Linked DNA regions of Homo sapiens. The protein of the gene in region 2 purifies or fractionates together with the protein of the main gene of each other region. This does not show direct contact. Each region holds a gene or a part of one and is shown on either strand. Other genes may lie near its edges.

The links.
Region 1: the proteins of MRAP2 (region 2) and PTPRF purify together in Homo sapiens (affinity purification with mass spectrometry; 2 studies listed by BioGRID and IntAct, with this or other methods). This does not show direct contact.
Region 3: the proteins of MRAP2 (region 2) and PODXL purify together in Homo sapiens (co-immunoprecipitation; 3 studies listed by BioGRID and IntAct, with this or other methods). This does not show direct contact.
Region 4: the proteins of MRAP2 (region 2) and SLC25A51 purify together in Homo sapiens (co-immunoprecipitation; 3 studies listed by BioGRID and IntAct, with this or other methods). This does not show direct contact.

The regions. Positions count from the first base shown.
Region 1 is NC_000001.11:43,533,875-43,540,897, forward strand, and holds part of PTPRF (receptor-type tyrosine-protein phosphatase F isoform 1 precursor), read left to right. Parts: intron 1-4,323; 5' UTR 4,324-4,403; intron 4,404-7,023. UniProt on the Homo sapiens protein: Possible cell adhesion receptor. It possesses an intrinsic protein tyrosine phosphatase activity (PTPase) and dephosphorylates EPHA2 regulating its activity.
Region 2 is NC_000006.12:84,057,759-84,064,781, reverse strand, and holds part of MRAP2 (melanocortin-2 receptor accessory protein 2), read right to left. Parts: intron 1,890-7,023; coding exon 1,790-1,889; intron 1-1,789. UniProt on the Homo sapiens protein: Modulator of melanocortin receptor 4 (MC4R), a receptor involved in energy homeostasis. Plays a central role in the control of energy homeostasis and body weight regulation by increasing ligand-sensitivity of MC4R and MC4R-mediated generation of cAMP.
Region 3 is NC_000007.14:131,504,626-131,511,648, reverse strand, and holds part of PODXL (podocalyxin isoform 1 precursor), read left to right. Parts: intron 1-215; coding exon 216-821; intron 822-1,317; coding exon 1,318-1,413; intron 1,414-2,063; coding exon 2,064-2,284; intron 2,285-2,620; coding exon 2,621-2,698; intron 2,699-4,922; coding exon 4,923-5,070; intron 5,071-5,327; coding exon 5,328-5,389; intron 5,390-5,613; coding exon 5,614-5,781; intron 5,782-7,023. UniProt on the Homo sapiens protein: Involved in the regulation of both adhesion and cell morphology and cancer progression. Functions as an anti-adhesive molecule that maintains an open filtration pathway between neighboring foot processes in the podocyte by charge repulsion.
Region 4 is NC_000009.12:37,901,128-37,908,520, reverse strand, and holds the start of SLC25A51 (mitochondrial nicotinamide adenine dinucleotide transporter SLC25A51), read left to right. Parts: upstream 1-4,393; 5' UTR 4,394-4,453; intron 4,454-4,963; exon of another isoform or gene 4,964-4,990; intron 4,991-7,393. UniProt on the Homo sapiens protein: Mitochondrial membrane carrier protein that mediates the import of NAD(+) into mitochondria. Mitochondrial NAD(+) is required for glycolysis and mitochondrial respiration.

The DNA.
Region 1 (7,023 bases), on a different chromosome or scaffold from region 2:
GCGCTTTCGGCCCCGGCTGCCTTTCTTCCTTTGGGACTAACAGCTATGTAGAAGAGGCAGCCCACCCCTAAGGTTCAGGCATCTGCTCAACTAAAGCAGCTGCGGTTCTGAGTTGGGTTAGAACATTGCAAGAGTTCATCAAGAGACGGGGGAGAGTTCGGAGGTCAGGGTGAGGTGAGTCCCAGAGGAGACCAAGAAGAAGTGATGTGAACTAGGTTTGGAGGGATGAGTAGGAGTTTGAAGAAGAGAGAAAGGACTTGAGATAGATAAAAACCAGTATGAATAAAGACTGGGAGGTGTTGTCACTTGTGAAGTATTCAGAGATGTGGCAGATCACAGAGGGCATTGAATGCCCTGTTAAGTACCTGTAATTTTACTCTGAGAACCCAGAGAGAAAACACCAAAGGTTTAAAGCTTGGATAGGGAGGGTGGAGTGTGCTGTGGTCAGGTTTATGTTTCCAGAAAATGCTCTGTGGCTATGGGAAAAGGATGGAGACAGGATGCCCAGTGGGGCAAGAGGGTGCAGGTAAGTAAGGTGAGAGAAGATGCTGGCTTTGATAGGTGGTAGCATGGTGCCATCTTGAAGGTACACTTGTCAGGACAGAATGATTTATTGGATGTGGGAGTGAAGGAGAGGAAGAGGAAGGAGTCCAGGTTCCTCGGAGTGGTTGAGCGGGCCTTCACTGAAGGCCCTGAAGCTTCACTGTGTTAGGGACTTGGTGAGGAGGGGCAGAGAATAAGCTCTTAGTTGGACATGTGGCCCTTGAGGTACTTGGGACATTGGAGGCTCAGTGGGGGAGGCACATCAAGGAGGGGCTTTGGTGTGAGGGTATGGGAGAGAAATGTCGGTCGGACCAAGAGAAGCGAGAGCTGTATGAGAGACCATAGAGCTGTGCACCTCGAGAGAAAGTAACCTCCGACAGTGGTGAAGAGCTCGAGTTTTATACTGCTAGGATTGGACTCTGTTTACTAGCAGCGTGACTTTAAGCAAGTGGCTTAACCTCTCTGAATCCGCTTCCTCATTTGTCAAATGATTATAATAAAAACCCGTGCCTTATAAGGGTTGTTATGAGGATTAAAGATAGTATGCATAAAGTGTGTGTAGCACAGGGCTTGGCATCTAGTGAGTACTGTTGTCTGTGTTTGCAGTTACTGTAATCATCCTCAACTGGGATGGTGTAAACCCACCCTCCCATCAGGGGTCACATGAGGTTGCCTTTAATGAGAAGATAGACTGCTAAGGTTAGGGTCCCTGTCTGCCTAAGGTTGCTGCAATTCTGAGCTGAGATTAGCAGGTCAAGGAGCTCAACAAAGGGGGTGCCTGCCCCTATTGTTATCGATGGGATTGTTTGTGTTGCTCAGGTGTTTGACCTTCAGGTGGGTGGGCTTGAGAAGACTAGAGGTGAGGCCTGCAGAAGAGACTCCATGTTTGGGGTAGGTGGAAGGGAATTTTGAGAAGGGGCAGCCTTGGGGTATTGAGTTCTCCATTTCCTCCCACCCTCCCTGGGCCCTGGGCTTCTACTGAGGCTCTTTCTGCCACCATCTGCCTCTGTGGTCCAGATGCACCATGTCTCTGTGTGACCGTGACTTCTAGGTCTGAGAACTCTGGTTTTAGCTCCTTAGCAGTATTTTAGCTGCTGTTTCTGGGGACTGTTCCTGGTGCAGCCACAGGGGCATTCTGGGGGTTGCTCCAGAGGGCAGCTGTGCCTGCATTCCCCTAGGTATCATCGACTTGCTCCTGACCCACTGCCGGGCCAGGTTTCAGGCCTGGCAGATGATGGGGAACCCTACTGGGGCCAGCCCTGCGTTGGCCCCAAGGGCTTTCTTTCTTGATATTGGACATGACTGTGGACTTCACCCCTTCTGAGGCCTTCCTGGGTGCCAAGCAGTGTGATTTCTTTCTTTTTCTCTTTGGTTTGAAACAGAATCTCACTCTGTTGCCCAGGCTGGAGTGTAGTGGTGCAGTCGTGGCTCACTGCAGCCTCCACCTCCTGGGCTCAAGTGATCCTCCCACCTCAGCCTCCTGAGTAACTGAGACTACAGGTGTAGTCCCACCTGGCTAATTTTTGTATTTTTTTAGAGACAGGGTTTTGTCATGTTGTCCAGGCTGCTCTTGAACTCCTGGCTCAAGTGATCCACCTGCCTTGGCCTCCCAAAGTGCCGGGATTACAGGGGTGAGCCACTGTGACTGGCCAGCAGTGTGATTTCTAACTTGGGTCCTGAACCATTCAGGCCCTTTCTGAGTAGCTTTCTAGTCAACCTTCCAGATGTCAGCTCTGGCTCTGTTCTGGGGGTGTATCTGGTTGTCCTGGTTGTTCTGGGCTCTGTCCCAGTGTGAGTGTAGAGTGGGTTCTGGGAGCTGCAGTTGGTGAATCTGAGTCTTTATTTGGTTGCCTGATAGGTTGTTTTGAGGTCAGTTTGATCCCAGACTGACGTGGTTCAAAGTTACTGTTTGGCTTTTCTAGGATCCTGCCCTCATGCTGTTCTGTGTGCCTCAGGGTCTTTGCAAATGTTTAGTCTTCTAAAATGGCCCCTGGCCACTTTGGGTACACACCTCTTTCCAGGTGTGGCTTCTGCTCCATGTAGGGCCTGTCTCAGTCTCCAAGCACGAGACCCTGCTGTGGCTGGGTGTGGCAGCAGCGCCTGGCCAGCTTGGGGGGCCTTTCCCATTACCCAGTTCCCTGCCTTGGACTCTGCCCCTCTGCCCAGGGTCTCTGCACAATGGTGCAGCCAAAAACCTCACTTGAATACTGTGAGGCCCTGCGGGCATCTCTAGACAAATGGGCCTTTAAGTTTGGGGCCTGGAAGCTGGTTTGTCTGGCCAGACCTGCTGGGCAGCCTGTATGCTGGGAGCAGCAGCTGCTGGAAACTCAGCTTGGGGAGCGGGGAGGGAAGCATGCAGAGAGGGCTGCGGGTTCTGGTGCAGGTAGGTGGGGCAGTGGAGGCTGGGTCGCCAAGCTGGCGAGGGCCATCTTGGGTCAGTTGGGATGGCCTTCAGTCGGTGAGAGTACCCCCATATTGGCAGAGGTGGTTAGTGCAACTTGAGGGTAATTCCCAGGTGCAGAGGTGTGTCCTTGATTTCATGATGAGGGTCAGTCTTGGGCCGGTGAGGACATTCCCACGCACCACCCTCCCACTGTGGTTTCTTTGTGTCCGTTATAGGAGGAGCCAAGGTGGCAGAGTGGTGTGGGGTGGGGATCACTGTGCATGTGGGGGCTTGAGGTGAGAAGCCTGCTGCAAGGTGCAGCTTGCGTCGAGTAGGCCAAACAGCTGAGCTTCCGTGAAGTGGTGATGAGGTGGTATGGGTGTGTCTGACCCCCACCCCCACCCAGGATGGTACCCACGCTGGTGGGGACTCAATAATGGCTCTAGAAGGAAGGGGCTGGGCTCTGTCGCTGCATGTGTGCCAGCGGAGGAGGCATCCAGGGGCACGCCTTCATTTTAAAAATTATAGAGTAGAGAAAGTCAAAAATAAATATTGCTTCTGAAGCTTCTTTGAAGACTGGCATGTATGTTGGGGTGTGTTCTTCCAGGCTGGGCTGTTTTCTTTGAACTCATTCATGCGTTCATCCACTCATTCAGTGTATGCTGACTGAGCACCTACTATGTGCCAGCTGTCAGCCAGGCGCTGGGGATACGGAAATGAGCTGGGCAGCCACAGTCCATGCTCCTATCAAGCTTATGGTAGTGACTCAGTAATTGTAAAAATATATAAATAGTCATGTTTGTGGTCACGGCTCCAAGCCAAGGTCCAGGCAGGTAGTCTGGGACATTGTGGAAGGCTTCCCTGAGAAAGTGCCACTGGACTTGAGATCCGAGGGTAAGTTGGCCAGAAGAGCATGGGTAGCCTGTGCCAGGCAGTGGCATTCAGCACTGGCAAGGCTGGGAGACAGGAAGAAATTTGGCACATTTGAGGATCAGAAGAGGAAGTTCCCGTTCTGGCAGGAGGAGAGCATGGGCAGGTAGGGCTGCAGAGGTGGGAGGGGCCGACTCTGCTTGGCTCTGGGGTCATGCTGAGGAGCTGGGCCACAGAGTCTACTGCTGAGGTCAGGGACTTGGTCTGTGTGGCTCACAGCTATATGGCTGGTGCCTGGAAGGACGCCCAGCACATAGTAGGTGCTTAGGGAGTATCAAAATGAATGAGCGAGGGAGTGAAGGGAAAAGATGGGCATTTTTACCAGATGGGGATGGTTCTACATGAACATTTCCATAACCTGCTTTTTTTTCTGCATAAACAGCAAATTTTTAATGTCTTTCTGTGTCAATACATATGCTGTTGTGATGAAATTCTTGATGTTTTCTCATGCTTTCCTTTCTGTCCAGGAAGGAGTGGAGGCCCTGGTGCCCGGCCCTTGGTGCTGAGTATCCAGCAAGAGTGACCGGGGTGAAGAAGCAAAGACTCGGTGAGTGTGCCCCACAGAGTGGCCAGGAGCAGGGGTGCACAGGGGTCCTATGGACCAGGCTGAGCAGCTTGGATTTGATGCAGGGTCAGTGGAGAGCTATAGAGGGGGTGTCAGCAGGGGGCATGACATGATCCAGTGTGCACTGGTGAGAGATTGTGGAGGCCTGGACCAGGGAGGCAGTGACAGAAGTGGAGAGAAGGGATGTGAGTGCTATTTAGGGAGGTAGAGTAGACAGGACGTGGTGAAGGATTGAATGTGGGGCATGAAGGAGGGGAGGTGTCAAGGATGGTGCCTGAGTTTCTGGCTGGAGTGGATGATAGAGGTGGATGGGGAATGACATACAGCTCGTCAGCTACTGTAGGTGTGAAATAGGCTTCCGGGTGATGTCCTGGGACTTACACCAGGATCTTTCTTCTGCTTCTCCATTCGCCACGTTTCTGTAGAAAAGACTGTTCCCATCGACTGTAGGTTGTCGTAGAAAGAGCTTGGTGCCTGCAGGATCTGGGCATGTCCTCTGCATCTCTTTGATGTCCCCTTGTTCTCCTCTCTGTCTGTTAGAAGCACAGAATGGGTGGGCTGGAGTTGCAGGGAATGAGGTTGGTAAGTTGGTTTAGAGTCAGCATCATGGGCCTTGGATGTCAGGCTAAAGACTTTAGACTTTTTCCTGAGGGCAATACAGCAGCATTGAAGGTTCTTAAGCAGAGAAGCAATATCCATGTGTTGATCTGTCCATTGCCCATCCGTTCATTCTTTCACGGAACACTGTCTGAATGCCTGCTGTGAAATAAAGTGGCAAACAAAAGTGCAGATTTGCATTTTTATGTGCTGAAAGGTGGCACTGGTCTGTGTGCGGGATGGGTTGGGAGTGATTGAAGGCAGGAAGCCCACCAAAGAGGCAGGAAGTGATGAGGTCTTACTAACACAGTGGCAGTGAGGATGGAGGCAGGTCAGATTCAAACTTATTGATGGGTTAGATGTGTGGGATGAGGACAAGGGAGCATTTAAGGAGGGTTTGCGGGCTTGGTGACTGACAACATGGTGGTGCTGTCCCCAAGACTGGACACCCTGGAGGAGGAGTGGAATTGGGGCAGATGAGTTCTGGTTGGGCCATCCTGAGCCAAGAGCTCGGTGGGTCTGTTCACCCTCTGTAAGCTCCTCGAAGGCAGAGCCTGTGACTCTCTTGTTCATCACCCTGCCCACTGAACATCTGGACGGGTGGCTGAACTAACAAGGCTGTGGAAGAGATGGGTCTGGCCTGGGTAGGGGAAGGAAATGTGTATGTCCTGGGTGTCTCCTGGGGTCCAGACCCTACGTTTGGTGAGATGGGCACTGGGGTTATGTAGAGGGTGCAGCAAGAGGGGCTGTGTCACAGGCTGGAAAGGTCAGATGGGGAGGGTGGGTGTAGGGACACTATGTGTCCCTTTGCCTCTCCATCCTCAGATGATGGTCTGACCTAACTCGAAGTCCAGTCTTGCCAGAATAGGTACCTGAAGGTGGAGCCCTCTGTCCTCTCGGGAGGCCACTAGCTGATGGCATGTCTGGTGGGGTGCAGATGGGGTGTGCTATAGGACCTGACTTCTGGAGGCTGGGTAGGGCTGATGTGGGGGTACAGGGGAAGATACTCTGAGATCCTGAGGCCAGGCGCCAGCAAATACAGGAGTTAAGCCAGGTTGGAGCTTCCTTGGGTACAAGGCCCAGGGTGCCCACAGGGGATTGGGTTCTGGGGCAGGGGCCAGGTCAGGCTCTAGGCTCAATTGGCAAAGGATCTTGTTGTCTGTGTTGGGGTTTCTCAGCCTCAGCACCATTGACATTTTGGATCAGATAACCCTTATTGTGGGGGCAGGGCTTGTTATTGTAGGGTGTCTAGCAGCATCCCTGGTTTCTTCCCCCTAGATGCCAGTAGCATCTCCCCGCTTTCCCCAGTCTCGACAATCAAAAATGTCTCCAGTCGTTGCGTAATGTCCCATGGGGGCAAAATTACCCTGAATTGAGAACCTCTGGTCTACAGCCTCTTGCTGCTTTCACTATACTGTACAAACCTGGAAAATTGGGGAGGGTCAGTGGGGAAGATGGATAGTGATGGGCCACTTGAGCAGAGTTCTGAGGGGTGAGTGAGTGCTGGGGCAGGAGAAGGACATTTTTTTCCAATAGACAGAACGGCAGGTACAGAGGCTTGGAGGCACAAAGTTGGGAAACAGTAATCCAAGGGGGACCCCAGCCCCAGAGGAAGGGGCCTGGAGGCTTAGGGGTTACAGCCGCAGGAAGATACCTCTGCTGGTCCCCTTTGGTCATTTGCCTCCAGAGTTAGTCTCCTGCTGACCCTTTGCCGCCTCCAAGTCTCTGCGACACTCCTCCTAATCTCCCCCTCCACTCCTCAGTGAGATGGAGAAACTGAGAGCTGCAACAGGGTGGGACTCAGTCCAGCTGGTGGGAGCCCCGATACCAGCCGTGGGAGGGAGGGCTGTTCCTGGCTCTGCTCACGGATTCTGGCCAACTGGCTGGAGGAGGGAAGGCGGCCTCACCCTCTTCCCCACAGGCCCCTCCTTCCCTGGGTCAGGGGTCCTGGCTGAGACTATAATTTATTCCCGTCATAATCCAGTGGTTGGTTTGGTGAGAGCTG
Region 2 (7,023 bases):
GGCGCGGTGGCTCACGCCTGTAATCCCAGCACTTTGGGAGGCCAAGGCGGGCGGATCACGAAGTCAGCAGATCGAGACCATCCTGGCTAACATGGTGAAACCCTGTCTCTACTAAAAATACAAAAAAGTAGCTGGGCGTGGTGGTGGGTGCCTGTAGTCCCAGCTACTGGGGAGGCTGAGGCAGGAGAATGGCGTGAACCCGGGAGGCGGAGCTTGCAGTGAGCCAAGATGGCGCCACTGCACTCCAGCCTGGGTGACAGAGCAAGACTCCGTCTCAAAAAACAAACAAAAAAACAAAACAAAACCAAAATGCCAGGATTCCTGTGAAACTTATATTCACTCTCCCAGGTCTCTCCCACCCTCCCCTGTCCTGCTCTGTGCTTGGGAAACTAGCCTTTGATGCAGCCTCTGGCTGCTGGTTGTGTTCAGCCAGTGGGGAGCAATGGTGAGAAATGGGAAGGAGGGAGAAGACTGAGGTCTTGGTCTTAACTTTGAGGCTCCTTCCCTGAGAGGTCACACTGGATTAGCTGTGTCCCTCAGCCCAAAGTCACAACTCCTCTCAGCAGACTCCAGGGTTCCAGCTGTGGCCCCACCCCTTGCTTCCTGGGATCTAGGATGGCTGCTCCTCAGTGTTGCCAGCCCTGCTGTCCTGCATGAGCCTGCGTAGTTGCCCTCTTCCCTGTCCATAACTTCCGCACAGCCCCTTTATCAAAAACTTTTTTTCTTTTTCTTTTTTTTAGACAGAGTCTGGCTCTGTTGCCCAGGCTGGAGTGCGGTGGTGTGACCTTGGCTCACTGCAACCTCCACCTCCCAGGTTCAAGTGATTCTTGTGCTTCAGCATCCCAGGTAGCTAGGACTATAGGTGCCCTCCACCACAACAGGCTAATTTTTTGTATTTTTAATAGAGACGGGGTTTCACCATAGCGAGGCAGGTCTTGAACTCCTGGACTCAAGTGATCTGCCTGCCTTGGCCTCCCAAAGTGCTGGGATTACAGGCGTGAGCCACCATACCGGCCAAAAACTCTTTTAATTACTGTTGCCTGCTGGTGCTGACTAATGAGGTATTCAATATTCTCTATTTTCCCTTTTATTAAAAATTTGGTATAAAATATATAAATCCTTTAATATATTTCTGAATTTTTTACAAGCCATTACTGAACAAATACTTTTTGATGTTTCTCAATGTTCTTTAAGCACTCATGTAATACTTTCCTCCATCAATCCAAAGTCCAGCATCATCACAAGTCCTACCATGTTATGAGAATTATGTAAACCACAGTGTTTGCCTTTGTATCCTAGTTTTAAGAAAACTCTGTTAAATTTATTAATCATTGTCAATAGTTAAATTGAGTTGAGTATCCAGGAACAACTATTACTCTGCTTCTTGAAATAATTTTTAAAACTGGTTTTCATCCTATTTTGCCATTGTCTTTTCCACTGTTTTTAATATGGTGAATCATCTAAATCCTTTTGGGAATATGAATAAAATACATTGTAATTAATAAACATTTCAATGTAAAAATCAGGCCCACATCATCATTAAGACTGTAGGAAAGGACCAAGAAACCCAATTTCATAAAAGTCCACTTGAAAATAAGCCCAAGACGCAAGAAACAAAAAGCCAGGAGAATAGCTGGATCCCATCCACGGGCATCTGGGTCCAGACAGCAAATCTATAACCACCCCCTTCTCTTCATCCACGGGAAGCACCTCCGGCCCTGGGTAGTAGTTTCTATTTCCTCAGTCTCCTGTGAGGCTTAAGAGACATTTAGGAACAGCCCAAACTTACTCTTGGTGTGGGGCTCCTGTCTTGGTCAGCAAGGTCAGCACAAAAAACATAAAAATCACGAAGACTGCAAGACCAACCCAAAATCCAATCACAATGGAATCTGAAAGACAGTTAATTCTGGGATTAGTATTTCACAGTAGTTTAAAACTTGAACATTCAAGAATCAGAGCTTTTTGGAGAGGCTTTGGTACATGAAACATGAAAGGAAGTCAACAGTCTGATCCGCAGTTGGCTGGAGACTGATAAGATGTAAAGGATGAGGAGGAGGGAAGAGTCTGCTCCGCCTCCAGGTTTCTGTCTCAGATAGCATGAAGGGATTTAGGCCTCATTGACTCATGCTTTCCATATCTCAAGGAAGGAACCTAGACCAGAGCATAGGTTATCTAGGACCTCAAGATTCCACTAATGTGTTTTGAGTTAGAAAATAAAATTTTTAGCAGACTATCAACTCAAGTTTTAAGTGCATTTGGATTCCTACTGTTAAAAGAAAAACTTTAGACAAATTAAATTTAACAGATATTAACTGTGCAAGGAAAACAAAATTCTTGAACCGGGAAGCTCCCAGAATCAGAATAGATTCAGAGAGACTCTGGGCTGCCTCATGGTTGGTTAAGATTTAGGGACAGAAAAAGGAAAATGATGTACAGAAAAAAGAAGCAAGGTACGGAAACAGCTGGATTTGAACACCATTTGAACAGCTGTCTGCCTGGGAGTGCCTGAAGTGTAGCTGCTGTGATTAGCTGAGACTGAGCTATTGTTACAGAAGCATTGGCTAGGTTTTCAGTTTGCTTACCTAGTAAGCTAGGTCACAGCTCATACCTAAGAATGCAAGTATGCAAATAATGGAGGCCTTCTTGGGCCAAATTTTAGTTTAACAACTCAATTGGTTAGCATCTCAATTAGGTAGCAACTTTGCATTCTCACTTACGTTCACCATGGATAATTCAGGCTCTCATTACTTCTTGCAGAGAACATACAGATGGCCTCTTGAGTGCTCTCTCTGCCTTCTGCCTTTCCCTGTGCTTTATTTCTGTACAAACCTGCTTTAATCACAGCCCTGATGATATTGCTCTTTCATGAAAAGCTCTCCAACAAAAACAGAACTGACCCACTTTTCCAGAGTAAAAGAGATTCCACACATAAAGCACTTTATACAATGTCTGACATCTGAGAAAACAGTACACCACAGGTGCTGGCTACTGTCATTAGAATTGTCATTTTCTCCCAATTTACCACTTTAAAAGCCATGTGTTTCCAATCAAACTAGGGGACACTGTGTCCCTGTATTTACCTTAGCCACAGCTTCCTCACAGCCACACCTTACCAGGGCTCTTACCACTACCTGGCTGGAACAACTTTTCCCAACGTGGAGCTAATGAAAGTGTATCCATCCTTCCAAGTCCATCCGCTACACTATCTACTAAGCCTCAACTAATTTCCATAATTGATGTGTTGTCTCCCTCCTTTGAACCCAATAACATTTTTGTCTGTAATTCCCTAAACAGGGCTCTCCTTGGTCCTATCTTGGATAACAATCACAATTCTTTATCTCTAGGACCAGGGTTAGATTGGATTGTCTACAGAACTTGGTACTTGCACAATAAGGCCTCAAATCTAGGACACAACAGAGTTGAATCATTCTACATTTTTTGGCCTACACTAAGAAGCTTGTCTATGTGGAAATACAATGAGGATGCTTAGCAATTTTCTAAAAATAAGTGATTAGAGCTTAAATATTAAATGTGTTTAAATGCAAAGCTTTATTCTAATTAAATTATGTATATGTAGCACTTTTTCCAAAGTGAAGAAATCAGATTAACAATTTACTCTGCATAATTCATACTTTCATCCTACATATACTATTGCCTAGAGGTTAACAATGTGTATTCAGCACTCTGAAAAACTAATGTGTCTAACCTTAAGTGCCAAAGAAATAGAAATTGTATACTTTGCCTTTTAATATAGTAGAAATGAGGCATAAAAAAAGACATAAGGGCCAGGCGCAGTGGCTCACGCCTGTAATCCCAGCACTTTGGGAGGCCGAGGCGGGCAGATCACGAGGTCAGGAGATCAAAACCATCCTGGCTAAGACAGTGAAACCCCGTCTCTACTAAAAATACAAAAAAAAAAAAAAAAAAAATTAGCCGGGTGTGGTGGCAGGCGCCTGTAGTCCCAGCTACTCGGGAGGCTGAGGCAGGAGAATGGCGTGAACCCGGCAGGTGGAGCTTGCAGTGAGCCAAGATCGCGCCACAGCACTGCAGCCTGGGTGACAGAGCAAGACTCCGTCTCAAAAAAAAAAAAAGATGTAAGGACAAATACCAAACACCACATGTACTGAGGTACAACTAACATGAAACAATTAAATCTCAACTATCTAGGCATGGACTGTGAAGAAACATTGTACAGATAAATAACAGTTCCCTACACTGTACTTTATCAACTGCCTGCATAGCAAAAGCAAATTCTAAAATTATACACCAATGCTATATTTAAGTCTTCGGTTTAGAATTGAATCATGTTGATTGACATTTTTCAAATCTGTGTATTAGGAAGGTGTTCTCCTAAGGACAGCTTTCACACTGCAAATGGTGGACTGACTCCCAGAGGTGGAGGAAAGCGTGCCCTCAACCCAGCCCAGTCCCCCTTCCCTCTGCCCTTCTAAGTACCCCCAGGGAGATAATCAAAAAGCAGCAATAATGTGAAGCATGGGAGGGTTACAGCCTTCAGAGAAGGCAGGTGGCGGCAGAGTTGGGGAGAGGCAGGCTGTGGGTAAAATCTGAGAATCCTCATGATCCAACAGCATTTCCAAACATTTCCTTAATAATGCGGCATCTATGTTTTTCATGGCAATATGCTTTAAGTAGCTCTGCTTATTCACATTTCCCTTTGAACAAAATTTAGCTTCCTCAAGTTATTTCCACTAATTTCCCCCAACCTCATCTTCTGCCCTATGACCCATCCCCAGGGGATTTTCTCACCCTGAGCCTCTTACAAGAAACATCAGAGATCCCCATCTCATCCCAGAAATATCCAAACTCTCCTGAAGTTTTATTCACATGTAAGTTTCATGGGCATAGGCACTACAGTAAGATGGGAAAAGTGGAGCCCGTTGTCTTCCCAAAAGCATCCTTTTCTGGGAAGAAGTCAGAATAAAGCTTTATACAGAGCAAAGCTCCAATGAGGCTAGATGGTTAAGAAAGTCAAAAGAAGCCTTCCAAACGAGTTTCCACCACCGCCAAGCTACCACACTCTGTCCTGTCTAGACACTGAGCTACTTAGAGACTACTATTGTAAAGGGGTAGAACAATTGCCCAGGGGAATTGCAAATGGAATGCGTCAGAATAAAGTAACCCCCCTTAACCTAACCTTTAATGAATGGAATGGAACAAGAGAGCTGAAAGTTGACATGATTTTTTTCCTTCCCAATCTAGGGTAGGACTAGGTTAACTACTCCATCCGACTCACCCTCCTCTCCACCTCCTGAGAATAAATGGTGAACTTTCCACTTCGTGGTTATATGAAAAACAAGGGTTAATACTTCACTTGAAAGAGAGGTTCATGACACTTTCCTCACACCACTTTTTGTTCCTAAGGCAGTAGGGCCAATTCTGTGATATGAATTCCTGGCAAAGAGCCAACAGTGATGTTCCCACACTTGTCTCTACTATCTTACTCCAAGCCTTTGCAAACTCTAGCTGTTTCTCATCCTAATGACCTGGCTTCTTGCTGACCCATCCATGCATGGGTCTGGTATCTGCAAGGTGGCACACGAAAAAGCATGAATTTGGCCACCACTGATAGCTCAAATTAAGAGGCTATTCCTTTAGTCTTTTCTCAACACAGCGGCCAGAGTGGTCCTGCTAAAATGTGATTGTCCACTCATTGACTCATCAGCTTTTGCTTCTGATGCTTTAAGAACACCCTGTCTCACCCAGCCACACTCTTCATAAATGACCCATTCCTCTCCTTCCCTTTATAGTGAGACACTTGAGAGATTTGTCTGTACATGCTGTCCCCAATTCCTCTCCTCTCATTTTTTCTTGAACCAATTCCATCAACCTTTTACCCCCAGCATTCCACTAAAACTGCTTTTCAAATCATTGCCAGTAACTTCTACATTATAAATCCAATGGTCAAATCTCAGTCTTCAATTAACTTGACCTAATAGCAGCATTTGACACAGACTGTCTTTGCAACCCTTTTTTCAGTTGGCGTCCAAAAAACCACAATTGTCCAGTTTTCTTCCTACTTTCTGTACATTCCTCTCAGGCACCTATGCTGCTATGCAACCCTCCAACTTCTAAACACAAGCGTGCCCAGGGCTCAGCATTGGACTCTTCAGTTTTCTGTCTACACTCACTTATCCAGCCTCTTGGCTTTGAACGCATACCGTTTACATGCTGATGACTCTCAAGTCTACGGCTTCCCCCGACACCTCTCCTCCCTTGTCCTCCTGGATATGTGATAGATGTCTCAATTTAACAGGTCCAAAACAGAGCTCCTGGGGTTCCTCTCTGAAACCTCCTTCTCCCATACTCTTCCCCCTCTCAGTTAAAGGCAATTCCATCCTGCCAGTTACTCAGGTCATAAATCTTCAAATCATTCTTGACTCTTCTTTCTCTTACACATACCGCCAATCCATTGACAAATCTTGCCAGATCCATCTTTTAAAAATATCCAGAATGTATGCATTTCTCACCACTTCACTCTCCCTACCTGGCTCCAAGCCACCATCATCAGCTGCCTGGACTATGGCAAAAGCCTCCTGAATGGTCTCTGCTTCTAATCTCATGCCTTTCACTCCGCAGTTGCAGAGTGATCTGTTGAAACCTAAGCCAGATGGCACTCCTCTGCTCCAGACCCTCCAGTGACTTCTCAGAGTAAAAGGCCAAACAAAGTCCTTAGCATGACCTCTAAGGCCCCCCCATGTCCTTGTCCCCACAGCCTCTTTGACTTCGTTTCCTGCTGTTCTGCCTCTTATCACTCCCCTGGTACCACGCTGGCCTCCTTGCATGATCCAGTTCACTCCCGCCAAGGATCCTTTTCTGGGATGTTCTTCCCCCAGATATATTATAGCTCAATCTCTCACTTCCTTCAGGTCTTTTATCAAATCTCTCCTTCTCAGTAAGGCTTTCGATGGCAATTCTATACTGTCGCCTCCACACTCCACATCCCTTTACCCCCACTCTATTTATCCTTTTATATTGCCATCTGACATTATCTATTTAACTATT
Region 3 (7,023 bases), on a different chromosome or scaffold from region 2:
CCCCATTCTCCACAAAAAGGAAGAAGAAAAAAAAAAGACAGAAAAAAGAGGTTTCTTGAACCTCCGAAAATTCTGGATTCACCAAAGACCCAGGCCTTTAGCAAGGCAGACAGCAGGGCTGCGAGCAAGGCCTCTGAATCCTGGGGAAGAGCTGGAGAAGCGTGGTGAGGAAGCCTCCCAGCCCTAACTCCATTCTCTGTTATCTTTACAAACAGCAACCCAGACTACTACGGACTCATCTAACAAAACAGCACCGACTCCAGCATCCAGTGTCACCATCATGGCTACAGATACAGCCCAGCAGAGCACAGTCCCCACTTCCAAGGCCAACGAAATCTTGGCCTCGGTCAAGGCGACCACCCTTGGTGTATCCAGTGACTCACCGGGGACTACAACCCTGGCTCAGCAAGTCTCAGGCCCAGTCAACACTACCGTGGCTAGAGGAGGCGGCTCAGGCAACCCTACTACCACCATCGAGAGCCCCAAGAGCACAAAAAGTGCAGACACCACTACAGTTGCAACCTCCACAGCCACAGCTAAACCTAACACCACAAGCAGCCAGAATGGAGCAGAAGATACAACAAACTCTGGGGGGAAAAGCAGCCACAGTGTGACCACAGACCTCACATCCACTAAGGCAGAACATCTGACGACCCCTCACCCTACAAGTCCACTTAGCCCCCGACAACCCACTTCGACGCATCCTGTGGCCACCCCAACAAGCTCGGGACATGACCATCTTATGAAAATTTCAAGCAGTTCAAGCACTGTGGCTATCCCTGGCTACACCTTCACAAGCCCGGGGATGACCACCACCCTACGTAAGTAATGCCTGGTTTTCTTCAAGCACCAAGAAACTTTTCAGGGCCAGGCGTGATGGCTCTGAAAAGGCTCATGCCTTGTAATCCCAGCACTTTGGGAGGCCGAGACAGGTGGATCACCTGAGGTCAGGAGTTCGAGACCAGCCTGGCCAACATGGCGAAACCCTGTCTCTACTAAAAATACAAACATTAGCTGGGTATGGTGGCAGGCGCCTGTAATCCCAGCTACTCAGGAGGCTGAGGCAGGAGAATTGCTTGAACCTGAGAGGGGAATAGTTTCTATTTCATACCTATTTATTTATTTATTTATTTATTTTTGAGATGGAGTCTCGCTCTGTCACCCAGGCTGGAGTGCGGTGGCATGATCTCTGCTCACTGCAACCTCCACCTCCGGGTTCAAGCAATTCTCCTGCCTCAGCCTCCCGAGTAGCTGGGACTACAGGTGTGCACCAGCACACCAGCTAATTTTTTTTTTTTTTTTTTTTTTTTTTTCAAGTAGAGACAGTGTTTCACCATGTCAGCCAGGCTGGTCTTGAACTCCTGACCTCGGGTGATCTGCCCACCTTGGCCTCCCAAAGTGCTGGGATTACAGGTATGAGCCACCATGCCCGGCCGATACCTGTTTACTTACTTACTTACTTATTATTTATAAGAGCTTGTCTTAACCTAGTAAATCAATTTCAAAATCTACCTATGGATCAAGAGCCTTAGGATCATGGCCCATCTCAGACCTGTGGACCCAGAGTTTCTGAGCGCTCCTGGTGATGTTGCTGCATATCAGAGGCATATGGTCTGAAGTCAGCAGGCCACCGCTCCACAGGAGGGTGCCACACAGTAGGAGTGCGGGCTCCGGCTGAGATAATCCTGGCTTCGAATCCCTGCCCTGCCATTGTTGGCACAGGAACTCGGGCAAATCACTGAGCCCCTCGGAGCCTCAGTTTCCTTGTTTATGAAATAGGGATGATGCCGATTCCTTCCCCAGAGGATTGTGAGGATTCAGTAGGAAAGTACCTTTGAGGCACCCAGTCCCTTGCACAAAGTTAAGTGCTCAGTGAACGTTTGCTGCGGCTGCTGTGACTTTGCCGGGTTATTCCACTGGCTTGTCATAGGAGTCCACTTCTTCCGTCTCTGTGGGAGGTAAGACCAAAGAACCTGGGAAAACTATTAGAGCAAGAAAAGATTGTCCTCTTCTCGCAAGGGTGCACTCATCTTTTCTCATTACCCTCGTTTTCCCAATGACAGCGTCATCGGTTATCTCGCAAAGAACTCAACAGACCTCCAGTCAGATGCCAGCCAGCTCTACGGCCCCTTCCTCCCAGGAGACAGTGCAGCCCACGAGCCCGGCAACGGCATTGAGAACACCTACCCTGCCAGAGACCATGAGCTCCAGCCCCACAGCAGCATCAACTACCCACCGATACCCCAAAACACCTTCTCCCACTGTGGCTCATGAGAGTAACTGGGTAACTCCAGCAGGGGTGGGGCAAGTAGGAGAACCCAGACTCGGGTAGAAGAGGCTTTAAGACAAGGTTTTCTGTTCTTTCCTCCAACGCAGGGCCCCTGGCTGGGGCTTTGAGCAGCACTTACCCATTCCCTCCTCCCTCTCCCTGGTTAGCCTGGTCCTGGCTTGAGCTGCCCTCAAGCCACGCAGCCAGGACATACCTGGCTCTGGAATGGGTCCAGCCATGCCTCCAGCTTGCCGTGAACTCTTTCCTATCTGGGTCACCCCTTAGTTGGGGGGAAATGTCAAAGATTCCATGACTATTAGCCCAAACCTTAATCTCAGTGGCTTCTTCCAGGCAAAGTGTGAGGATCTTGAGACACAGACACAGAGTGAGAAGCAGCTCGTCCTGAACCTCACAGGAAACACCCTCTGTGTGAGTAGCTTGCTGATCTGAGCCGCCAGGTGCAGGCTCACAGCAGGGCTGAGGGAGGGAGAGGGAATGTATGTTCTTTCTAGGTGCATTTTTAAACATCTTTCTAAGGTGCATTTGCTTTCCGGCCCTCATTTCTTCCTAGTAGGAAGTGGTCCTTTCCCATCTTACAGAGCAACAGACCAAGGTTTAAGACTTCTCTAAGTCAGGACACACCCACAGGACTGGACCCCCCCCTCCCACCCCCCGGTTTCCTCGGCTTTCACTGTGTGACTATTTCCAGTATGCTGAGTTGAGGGACCCTGATCCTAGTTCCTGTTTGCCCCTAGCTCTGGGAGTGACTTTGGTGAGTTGATCTCTTTGGGTTTCAGATGTCTCAATTGAAAATGAGAGGTGAGGCCAGGTGTGGTGGCTTACACCTGTAATCCCAACACTTTGAGAAGCTGAGGCAGGAAGTTTGCTTGAGGCCAGAAGTTCAAGACCAGCCTGGGAAACATAGGAAGACCCTGTTTTTACAGAAAGAAAAGAAAAGCAAGAGAAAATGAGAGGTGTAGTCTGTCTGCTTTAATCGTCTGTGGCTTCACATTTCCTGGTCTGTGGACTATCTGAGAGCCTTGATGGACGAACAGTGCTGGGAGATTCTCCCTCTAACCTGAGGAGCTGATGGGATGGGTGGGAGAGAAAAGGGCCCAGGAATGCAGGAGCCACTGCCAGCATTTCTCCAGTCTGGGTGGTGAGCGTGCGTGTGAGCACACCTGTGTGAGGGAGGTAGCAGTGTGTGAGCAGCCTTCAGGCCACCGGTCTCCATGGGTCCAAAGGCTTTGGTCTGGGGAGTGTGCGCTGTGCACACTCAGTAAATAACTGCCGAGCGCGGCGGGTGCTGGAGATGGCTGGCTCACTGCTGCCCTCTCCCGGTCAGTGCCGGTTTTTTGCAGCCACCCCCTAGGAACTAGAACTAGAACAGACCTGAACACGGTGTCTATAGATAGGATGGAGAATTTGGGCTTACAACACTTTAATGCTGCCTGAATTTTCTGCAGTTGTTTTCTTTTGGGTGTCCATTATGCCGGCATTTTCCAAGTGAACTTTACAAAAGCCTACATCTAGACCAGAGTTTTAAAAGGGAGCAGTGCTCTCCTAGGGCTGGGCTTATTGGACAAGGCAGGCATTGCATGATATGGGCTCTGGGGACAGTCAGGTGCCCGCCCAGCCCTTCCTCAGACCCTCTTTTTGGATGTAGCTTGGTAGGCTGTGTGATTGTTGTGAGACACTTTTTTTTTTTTTCCCTTTGCTAGAAAAGGAAGATGGAAAACCCTGGATCCCTTCCTGATGTCAGGGTGGGGAATTACTAAGCCTAAGGAAATTCTGGTAGAAACCTTAGGGGTGGTTTGTATGGGTTCTGTGCTAAGCTATCCCTAGAGTCCTTTTCTTTGTCTTAGTCATTTATTCCAGAATCAGGTCAGAGAAGCCCCAGGGAGGGGTGCCCCTAGATGGCATGGCAGGACTGGATACATGCTGCCCACACTTCTCCCCTCATCCTCAGCTCTAAAGCCACGTCAGCCACAATCTTTGTTCTTAGAGCTAAATAAGACCCCCTCCAAGATATCCTAGGGGTAGCTTCAAGATCCCACCTGTTCCCCTACTCAGTGGAGCCCCTTCCCTGTCAGCCTGTCCGTGGCTTCAGAGCCAGAGGCTCTGCCTAGGGCAAGGGCACATGTATTTCAGCTTTGGGGGTAGAGACCCTTCTGCTGAGAGCTGCAGCCTCCCCACCTGATTTCTCCGAACTGGGCATGAAAGGCTGGTGAATGGGAGTTTAGGGGGAATTGGAGTCTCCCTGCGGGCTGTGGGGTAGGGTTGCTGTGCAGTGCCCCCTCTCTAGCCCGTTCTAGGGAGGGAGATGAAAACAACCCCCAATCCGCAAACAGCTTGGAGGGAAAAAAGAGGCACTAGGGTGAAAGGAATGAAAGGTGCAAGCGTAGACCAGATAAACACAGTGCGGAGAACGGGCTGATGGGAACGAGACAGAGGAGGCAGGAACTGGCCCAGGAGAACAGCATGCAACCCTTGATTCCTGGCAGGCCTGCGTGGAGCACCAGCTGGGGCTAGAGAGGGAGGCAGGTTCTAGCACAGCAACAGCACTGTCCCGACCTTAGCTGGGAGGGCAGCCCCACAGGCCTAGGCTGCTGTCACGCTCCCCGCGGAGTCACCTGCGCTCTCCCCACCATAGGCAGGGGGCGCTTCGGATGAGAAATTGATCTCACTGATATGCCGAGCAGTCAAAGCCACCTTCAACCCGGCCCAAGATAAGTGCGGCATACGGCTGGCATCTGTTCCAGGAAGTCAGACCGTGGTCGTCAAAGAAATCACTATTCACAGTGAGTGGAGGGCAAGGGGGCCTGGGCTGGGGCCTGCATGGGTGGGAATGGGGGGCATGCAGAAGCCACATTGGAGGGTGGGTCACAGTGGTGCCCCTTCAGTTCCCTAAGAACTGTCAAGCCACACCCCCTCCCAGGTCACCCGAGAGACACTCAGGAGACTGAGATACGGTGCGTCCCTCTCTTGGGGCGCAGTCCCCGTCCCCCACTGCCTCGCTCTGGGCTGGGCCATTGGGCATCGTCTCCCTCTCCCACAGCTAAGCTCCCTGCCAAGGATGTGTACGAGCGGCTGAAGGACAAATGGGATGAACTAAAGGAGGTAAGCGGCCCCCCAAGTGTGGGGACAGAGTGGCTCCGAAGCCCCTTGTGGGAGGTCTGGTTACTCCCCTCTCTCTGTGGGGAGGAACCCCGTCATGTGCCTGCATGTAGAAGAGGGCGGCGGCACGGACCCTAGCAGACTGCAAGCGGAGGGGCTCTACAGTGAAGCCGGGGGCTGAGGGAGAGAGGATGCCCCCAGCCTGTTCTCTGCCACTTCCCATGCAGGCAGGGGTCAGTGACATGAAGCTAGGGGACCAGGGGCCACCGGAGGAGGCCGAGGACCGCTTCAGCATGCCCCTCATCATCACCATCGTCTGCATGGCATCATTCCTGCTCCTCGTGGCGGCCCTCTATGGCTGCTGCCACCAGCGCCTCTCCCAGAGGAAGGACCAGGTAAGCAGCTGTTTGCAGCCACACAGGGGAAGCAGCCCAGGTCACCAGAGGAACCCTCCCCTCGTGATTCCCGAGTTGCAGAAGAGGAAAGGGAGCAGGCCCTGGACCCTTTCTAACAGGCAGAGGCCACCCCTGATAGGCAGCCGCCTCAGTCCACAGAGCATTACAGAGGCAGCGTGGCAGAGGACAGAGCGTGGGCTTTGGAGTCGGGAAGACTTATTTATTTTTTATTTTATTATTATTATTTTTTTCAGACAGGGTCTTGCTCTGTCACCCAGGCTGGTGTCACCCACTGCAACCTCAAGTGATTCTTGTGCCTCAGCCTCCCCAGTAGCTGGGATTACAGGTGCCCACCACCACGCCCGCCTAATTTTTGTATTTTTACTAGAGATGGGGTTTCGCCATGTTGGCCAGGCTAGTCTCGAACTCCTGACCTCAAGCAATCCGCCTGCCTCAGCCTCCCAAAGTGCTGGGATTACAGGTGTGAGTCACCACGCCTGGACTGGAGTCAGGGAGACTTGGTTAGTCCTGGCCCTGACCTTGAGGAAGTCAGTCAGATGAGCTCTTTGGGCATCAGGTTCCTCATCTGCACAGCAGGGATAACCTCCTTGCAGAGCTGGTCTGAGGATTCATTGATAGAAGCAGGCCTAGGTGTTCTGTCTAACCAAAAATTCTTCTGCCTACCTTACTAGAATTCTCGCCATGATGGTGCCACCCAGACCCTGTGGTTCTCACTCCTGCCTGCACACCGTGGGGAACTTTAGAAAAATTCCCTTGCCTGACTGCCTCCCACACCAATTCAAACAATCTCTGAGTCCATCAGTGTAGTTGTTAAAAGCTCCCCAGGTGATTCTAGCATACACTCAAGGTTGTGTTTGAGAGGGACAGAAAGCGCCTCTGCCAGATGGCTGCTGTCTGCCGCAGGGATGATTCTAGAGACACCGTACCCATCCTGCCCAGGCTTGAGGGCTCAGTCACCCAGCCCGAGAGAGGTCATTTTTTAATAGTGTTTTTCCCATTCATTATGATAGGTGAGGTAGGTGCCTGGAGAGGAGGTTTTGGGGGAAGGGATGAAGGGGAGGAGAGAGCTTAGAGGACTCTGGAGAACAAAGTCCATCTCCACTAACTTCACAGGTTCTGCCACCAGGGTGAGGGTGAGGGGCAAGTCTTTGTTCCCAACTAGTTCCGGGCAGGCTGAGAGCCAGAATGACCACCAGGAGCAGCCAGCCCCACAGGCGAGCA
Region 4 (7,393 bases), on a different chromosome or scaffold from region 2:
CCCTGATTGCAGCTGGTACAACTTCCCTCTCCTATCAACACTCAGAGCACTTGGTATGTGCGGCTCTCAAGCAATGCTGATAATTTTCCTTAGGACTGTTTCCCCTCTGAGCTACAGGCTCATTCACTTACACATTCCTGAGCCCTGTAGGACCCTGTGTTTCAAACCACAGGTCACTATAATGGGTCAGGATGTCAATTTAAAGCTATAATTTCCCAAAATTGCCTGAGAAGAATCAGCCAGGGCTAGCGTTAAATATACACAGGCCAACTGGCCTCTCTCCTGGGGATTCTAATTTAGTCTGTCTTGGAACTGATTATATATATATATCATATATATCATATTTGTGTATATATCGTATGTGTGTATACATCATGTGTGTATATATATCATATGTGTGTATATATCATGTGTGTATATATCTATCATATATGTGTGTGTATATATCATATGTGTGTGTGTGTGTATATATATCATATATATATATATATATGTTGGGTTTTTTTGAGTTAGGGTCTAACTCTGTCTCCCAGGCTGGAGTGCAGTGGTATGATCACAGCTCACTGCAGCCTCAACCTCCCAGACTTAAGCAATCCTCCTGCCTCAGCCTCCCAGGTAGCTGGGACTACAGATGTGTGCCACCACGCCTGGCTAATTATTTTATTGTTTATAGACAGGGTCTCACTGTGTTGCCCAGGCTGGTCTCAAACTCAAGTGATCCTCCTGCCTCAGCCTCCCAAAGTTCTGGGATTACAGACATGAGACAGATCTATTTTTTAACCAGACCTCTAGGACCTAGAATCTAGGTCAATGCTTTTCAATCTGTAATGTGCACACAGCACACCTGGTGAACTTGTTAAATACCAATCCTGGTTTACTGGGGCCAGAATTCTGCATTTCTAACACATTTCTGGGTGACTCAGTGCTGGTGCTGTCCCTAAGTGTATGGCCCATAGGTAGTTTGCCCAAATTCAAGAGATTCTTGTCTTCAGGCACATTGGGGAAGCAAGAATTGAGCACTGTTGTTCTCAACCTCAGCACACCTGGGAAGCTTTTAGACTATACTAAGGTTCAGGTCCCACTGCAAACCAATTAAATCAGAACCTCTGGGGCAGGGGAATGGGGCCGGGGAGTGGGGCGGGGGGTGGCTGTTGTTTTGTTTTCAAAGCTTCCCAGATGATTCTAATGTGAAACAGGGCTAAGAATCACTGATTCAGTGGGGCCCCACCACCATTAAAATGAATGAATGAATAAACTGAAGAGAACAAACAATCTCCCAGGCTGGCAGGGTAAACCCTGGGTCTCTGTTATATGTTATTAATACAGATGCACGTGAGTTGCTGGATCAGAGCAGGTTTGGACATGAATGAAGCAGAAAGGGAGAAGGTCCTGGAGTTCACAGACCAGCCATGGGGACAGACTGCAAGGACCTGAGGTGGGGGCAAGGGAGGGTGGGGCTGACAGCACTGAGGGGCTCTGCAGCAGGACGTAGTGAGTTCAGATGGGGCAGCAGTGACCAGAAGCCTCTGAACTGAGCCATGCAGGAGGAACAGGACATTGTTATGAAGCAAGCAAGACCTTTTAGGCACAGAGGACAAAAAATACCCAAGCGTTGGGGGACGTGAAAAGAATGCAGCAAGTTCAGGGAAGGGAACACCAAGGGGCTGGCTGGCCCTTGGCCATTTGGTACTGGGGGTGTGAAGGGGAGTGGCAGAGATAGTCACTCACAGTAGCTGATACTCCACTGACAGCTTGCGTAAGGCTGTTTTCGTGCACCTAAGAGCCAATGAAGTCTGAGGGCACCAGACAACCTTCTAGAAAGCATTTTTTGAGGGGAGGAGTGGAGGGTGATTAAGCAAAGATCCACCAGCAACCTTCTTATGGCCCTTTCCCCCAGGAACCCAGGCCCTGCCTTCCAACAGCTCTGCTCTCCACCCGCATTTCATTTCGGCAAACATCTCCTAGGCGCCCTTTTTGCCAAGCACTGAGTTGGAGAGCCAGGAAAAAGCCAGACAGCTCTGCCCTCATGAGCTGGCGGTGGGAAAGATCACACTGTCATGAGTGACTACAACATAGGACAGGATGTCAGAAGCGCCCCAAACTTTGGGGCATGGGAAGGCAGGGGCAAGGACAGTCAATTTTGCCTGAGATGATCAGGGAAGCCTTCTAGGAGGGAGAGGAGGCAAAAGGACCTTGAAGGGCTATTTGGTGAAGGGCTAACATGTATCAGTGGTGAAAGGGGGAAACAGGCTTAAGGAACACAGGATTTGCAAAACACTGAGACTGCATATGGCTAAAGCACAGAATATAGTTGGGGTTGAGGTGGACAGACTGGCAAAAGGGCCAGGACAGGACAGCCCCGTGCACCGAGTTAAGGAGTTTGGATTTACTGGGGGAACCAAGAGGGAACCAAGGGGGAACCATTGGAGATTTTTAAGCTGCGGGATGACATGATCACAGCTGGGTTGGAGGATATCTGGCAGCTGACCTAGTGGTTGGAGGTATGGAATGCAGGAATGGGTGGATGAGGACAGAAATGAAGGGCTAACTTTAAGATGGATCTGGTATCCAAAAATAGAGGGTTTTCATCCCCAACATTCATATGCCCAAGAAGAGCCAATGAAGGGCCTGGGGGTTTCTGACAAGGAACTAAGAGCTGGAGGGGCAGAGGACTGTGCTGTGGCCTGCAGCAGCATAAAAGAAGCAGACTGGGCTCAGCTCCAGACCTCAGTTTTCCCGTTAGCCTGGGATTTTCTGAGTCTGGTGTGCCCCAATTGTGTGTTTAATTTCAGTCTTTTCCTTCTTGTTCAGGTTTTACCGCAGGAGAATAACCTCTCCATTCTAATCTGAAATTAATTATTTATGCTTATGAACACGCTGGATGCCTGCCTGGTTTATTTATTTTTCAAATAATGCATCTGAATAGGCATTCACACAAGACAGGGCAAACATAATTTTGAGGCAAAGGCCCTTTCCAACTGTTGCCCGATTAACTGTTCTAAGCCATTGTGTAGCCTTGTCCTTATCCTGCGGAGTCCAAAATTTATCCCTCGCGTACTAATTAGATGGCAGGTGTCTGTGTCTGACAGTCAAGATTCGCATTATCCAGCCCCACCACCTGACCCTTACAATCTTATCTCCTGCTGCTATGACTTTCTCCACTGGGCCAAATTCCACTCATCCATCCTCCAAGGCCCAGTTCAAACGTCTGCTCTGTGAAGCCATCTCTGGTTCTCCCTCGAGGGGGGAGGTCCCCTCATGCTTCTGAATTTCCAGTCTTTTGTTGTTGTATCCTTCATCAGACGCTAAGCTCCCCAGGACCTGGCACGCAGTAGGTTCCTCAATGGAGCGTTTGCTGGAATGGGGGAGGGTGGTCTCCAGCTTCCCGAGAGGCACCTAAGCACGCCAGCCAAAGTGGGGCTGGGCAGAGACCAGACCCGCTTTTGGAGTCAGTGTCTACAAAGTGCTCTCGGGGGAAGGGGGCACGCGGGGAACGTCGCCCACCCGGAGCCGATCCCCCCAAGAACGCTTCACTCGGGTGGGGTTACTGCTTGGGCTCGCCCCAAGCACAGTGCGCACACTTCACACATCCGCAAGCCTCCTGAAACGCCTCTCCCCTCAGGCCGACCTTTCTGTTTCCTTCAACGCCTCCCATCTGTTGTGTGCGTTCCAGTTTCCAACTCAGAGTCAGAACCATCATTTCCAAAGACTCCTGCAACAGCCCGAGGACGCATACAAGGCATGGGTTACTTTTCAGACGGAGATTTGGGGCTCAGGGTCCAGCGACTCACCCAAGGTCACTCTCAAGAAGTATGAGGGCTATGACTTTGACCCAAGCCTTCTAACTCCCCGGGCAGCGCTCCTCCCAAGCCCCCCGCAAGCTGTCTGAGCTTCAAAGGAAAAAGTTTAAAAGTGATCCATACGTCCCAAAGCACGCACAAAGCGTTCTTCTGTAAACTGCGGCATGGGTCGCTGATAAAAGGTCCCTCTGAAGGTTTGAAGATACTCAACAAGGCTCCACAGAGGGTACTTTGGAGTTTTCCGCGAAGGCGCTCGCCCCGCAGAACCGACAAGGCCCCTAAAACCGACAATGCCCAGACGCCCCCTGCAGGCAGCGCGCTAGAGAACGCGTTGGCTGTTTCTGGCACGCTGAGGCCACCGTACGGCATCAAGGGTGAAGCATGGTGGCTAGCGGAGCCCGCATCCTGACAGGTGTGCTGGCGTGGCCCTCTACCTGCCCCGCCGCGGCGGCCTGCGGCCAGGAGAAGTAGGCTGGCGACATCTGGCGGGCCGCGGGCCGAGGGAGGGGAGGCGGGGCGGGGCGGTGTCTCCCTCACGTGACCCCAACAGCGCCCAGCGCGTCGCGCTGCGCCCCAACCTCGGGGTCGGTCACAGTCTGCGCCTGCGCGGGCCCCGGCTCGCTAGCCGTCCTGCGGGACGCCGGCGCTGATGGGTGAGTGTGGGACGAGCGTGGGGAAGCACCGGGCTTTCTTCGCATGAGGTTGGAGGGAGGGGAAACGCGCTGAAGGGCCCGCTGGGGCAGGCTGCCGCCCTGGGGGCCCATCCCTGTCTTCTGCGCGCTCCGGCTGCCCTGGCCCGGTCCCTGCGGGCCCCACCCAGGCGGCGCGGGCGGAATCAGTTCTGAGCCTCCTCGGCTCCGGGCTCCCCCGCCTGCCGCGGGTGTTTGTCCGGCTGCTGGGCGACCTTTCCCGCGAAGGCGCTGTCCCTTCATTCGGGCGCGCCCTGGGCTGGGGAGGCACCTCCCTGGTGCACAGGAACCGCAGGGGCGGGGAGGAGCCGGGAGCTGCCTGCGCCCGGGGGACAGCGGGGATGGCACCGCGCAAGGGCCTCTGCGTCCCGGGAGACTGGGATTTCGGCCTCACCTCGGGACCCCTGACTGTGAAGTGTCAGAAACGGAAGAGGACTTAGTGATCTTGTCCAACCCCCTCCCCGCCTTTCACAGGTTGGGGAAATGGACGCCTGGAGAACGGTAAGTTCAGCTACATAGCCTGGCAGTGCTTGTTCTGCGACAGCATATTGCATCGCGTTGTAGGAAGCTCACTTGTACAAGGATTTTCGGGGACGATGGTGTTGGTGGTGTTAGTCTCCATCCATTATTTGGTGTTCAGTTTAGCTAGATGGAGTATGTCAGCACCTCAACTTCCTGCAAAACCTTTGTTTTGCATCTCACAGCTCTACCTAGCTGATCTTAATTCCCACCTTCTGTTTTTCTCTACTTGTAATCTCTGAAACAGAAGCCCTTGAAATGTATAGTGACCTTGCCATTTTGAGCCGCCTCTGCCCGTGCTTTGAAAGGATTCCATAGGATCAAAAGGTGCTAGGACTCTTGAGGTCCCATAGTGGTTTAGAGCACAGGTTACCGCTTTGGAACTGGAATCACCCTTAGCGCATCTCAGGGGAAAACAAGCTAGGAGTTGACTCATCTGATCTCTCGTTTGGTAAATGAAAGCAAACTCAGATCAGTGGATTTTAAAATCAGATATTGCTTTGTCTTTATATTGGCAAGCTAGTGTCGTAACTAGGACTAGACCCAGGCTGATCTTGTTCTGAATGCTGACTCAGACCTGCTGACTAGTGGAAATTCACATCCTTTGAGAATTGGAGTCACCCTCTCCCCAGTTTTTGCAGAGACCTTTGTGCTAGGATCATATCTGTATCATGCTGATCCATGTAGGCTGTAAATTATAATAAGGTTTTAGACTTTACACTGTTTTCTTAGTCACAGAAGCTTGACACTTGTAGTTGCTTGAAAATCAAGTTCATTAACTGCTCCCTTATGATGAGATAGTTTTACGTAGCAAACAAGCGTAAAGTTATGGTAAATAAATTTTGCAATAAATTGCAAAGAATTATCCACATTAATGAATAAAAATATAAAGATCAGTTTAGCAAAGAAATTTAACCATGTTCACAGTATAGGTAAACATGCAAAAGTCTAAACTGTACTACCAAATAATGCTGTGCACATTATCCTTCTATTGCTAAATTAAGAACATATTCACACCATCCTGGTGTGTAGGATTAAACTAGAGAAAAAGCTTTAAATCTGTAAAGTCCAGGAGGGTTTCATAACATTTTTTCCCCCATCTAGGCCTATTTTTTAAATCTGAGAATCTCAATGTACAGTAATGTTCTTAAAATAGTTGGATATGGTGGTCAATAAATGGTTAACTTCTGTTAGCTGTAGTTTTCTGCTTGTTTAATAACAGTCCCCATTCTCACACAGAGTCATAAATAAACTAACCTTTATTTGCAAAATTTCAGAAAGTAATACAAGTAACATTCCAGTAAAAGTGAACATGGACAAAATTTTTATTGTTGTTCAAGTACACAAATAACTTGGCTTGTACTGTCAAGGAGCATGTGTAAACAGCTTGTAGGTGGTGACTTTAGAATTTAAAATATTTTGTGTGCTCCGTATGTAAAAATAAAATGGTTTTGACATTCATAAATTGTCACAATATCATGTAATCATGTACATTAATCTAAATATTCTTGTTGATTTAACATTGTTTAATTCTGAAACTGAAGAAGTGCAAAGCATTACATAGGTATCAAGCATTTCTAGACTAAGTTTTAGGACTTCAAATATTGATTAATCTTAGCTTGTAAGTGTACTAATAAGAGTTTTTAACTCATACCTATCAGCTGAATCAGTAAAAAGTAAGGATGTAGTAGAACTAATAATTATCAAACTCAATACCCTAACAGACTTCAGTGTCTAGAACATATCTTGAAGTTAATCATATTAAGCCCCAAAACTCTGTACATTAAGAAAGGGAGAGGAGAGAGGGAACAGATGATATTCTGGAACCTTTTTTTTCCCTTTAATCTTATTTTTACTGTGAATAACAACACTAGACTCACTGAAGATTTTGGGACACTTACTAGCAAGCATAGTTAAGACAAAATGCCAACTCTCTTAAATAGTAATAAGAGTTTTGCTCAAAGAAAAGTACACAGCCTTAAACAGTCAAGTTATGAAATAAAGGATAAAAATAGTTGTCTCACTTAAGAATTACAAGAAAATAAGCCAGGCACAGTGGCTCACACCTGTAATCCCAGCACTTTGGGAGGCCAAGGCAGGCTGGATCACTTGAGCTCAGGAGTTTGAGACCAGCCTGGCTAACATAGTGAAACCCCGTCTCCACTAAAAATACAGAAATTAGCCGGGTATTGTGGCATGCCTGTAATCCCAGCTACTTGGGAGGCTGAGGCAGGAGAATCGCTTGAACCCAGGAGGTGGAGGTTGCGGTGAGCCAAGATTGCGCCACTGCACTCCAGCCTGGGCAACAGAGTGAGACTCTGTCTCAAAAAAAAAATTTTTTTTTTAAACTAGGTGAGCATGGTGGCTGATGCCTGTAGTCCCCTT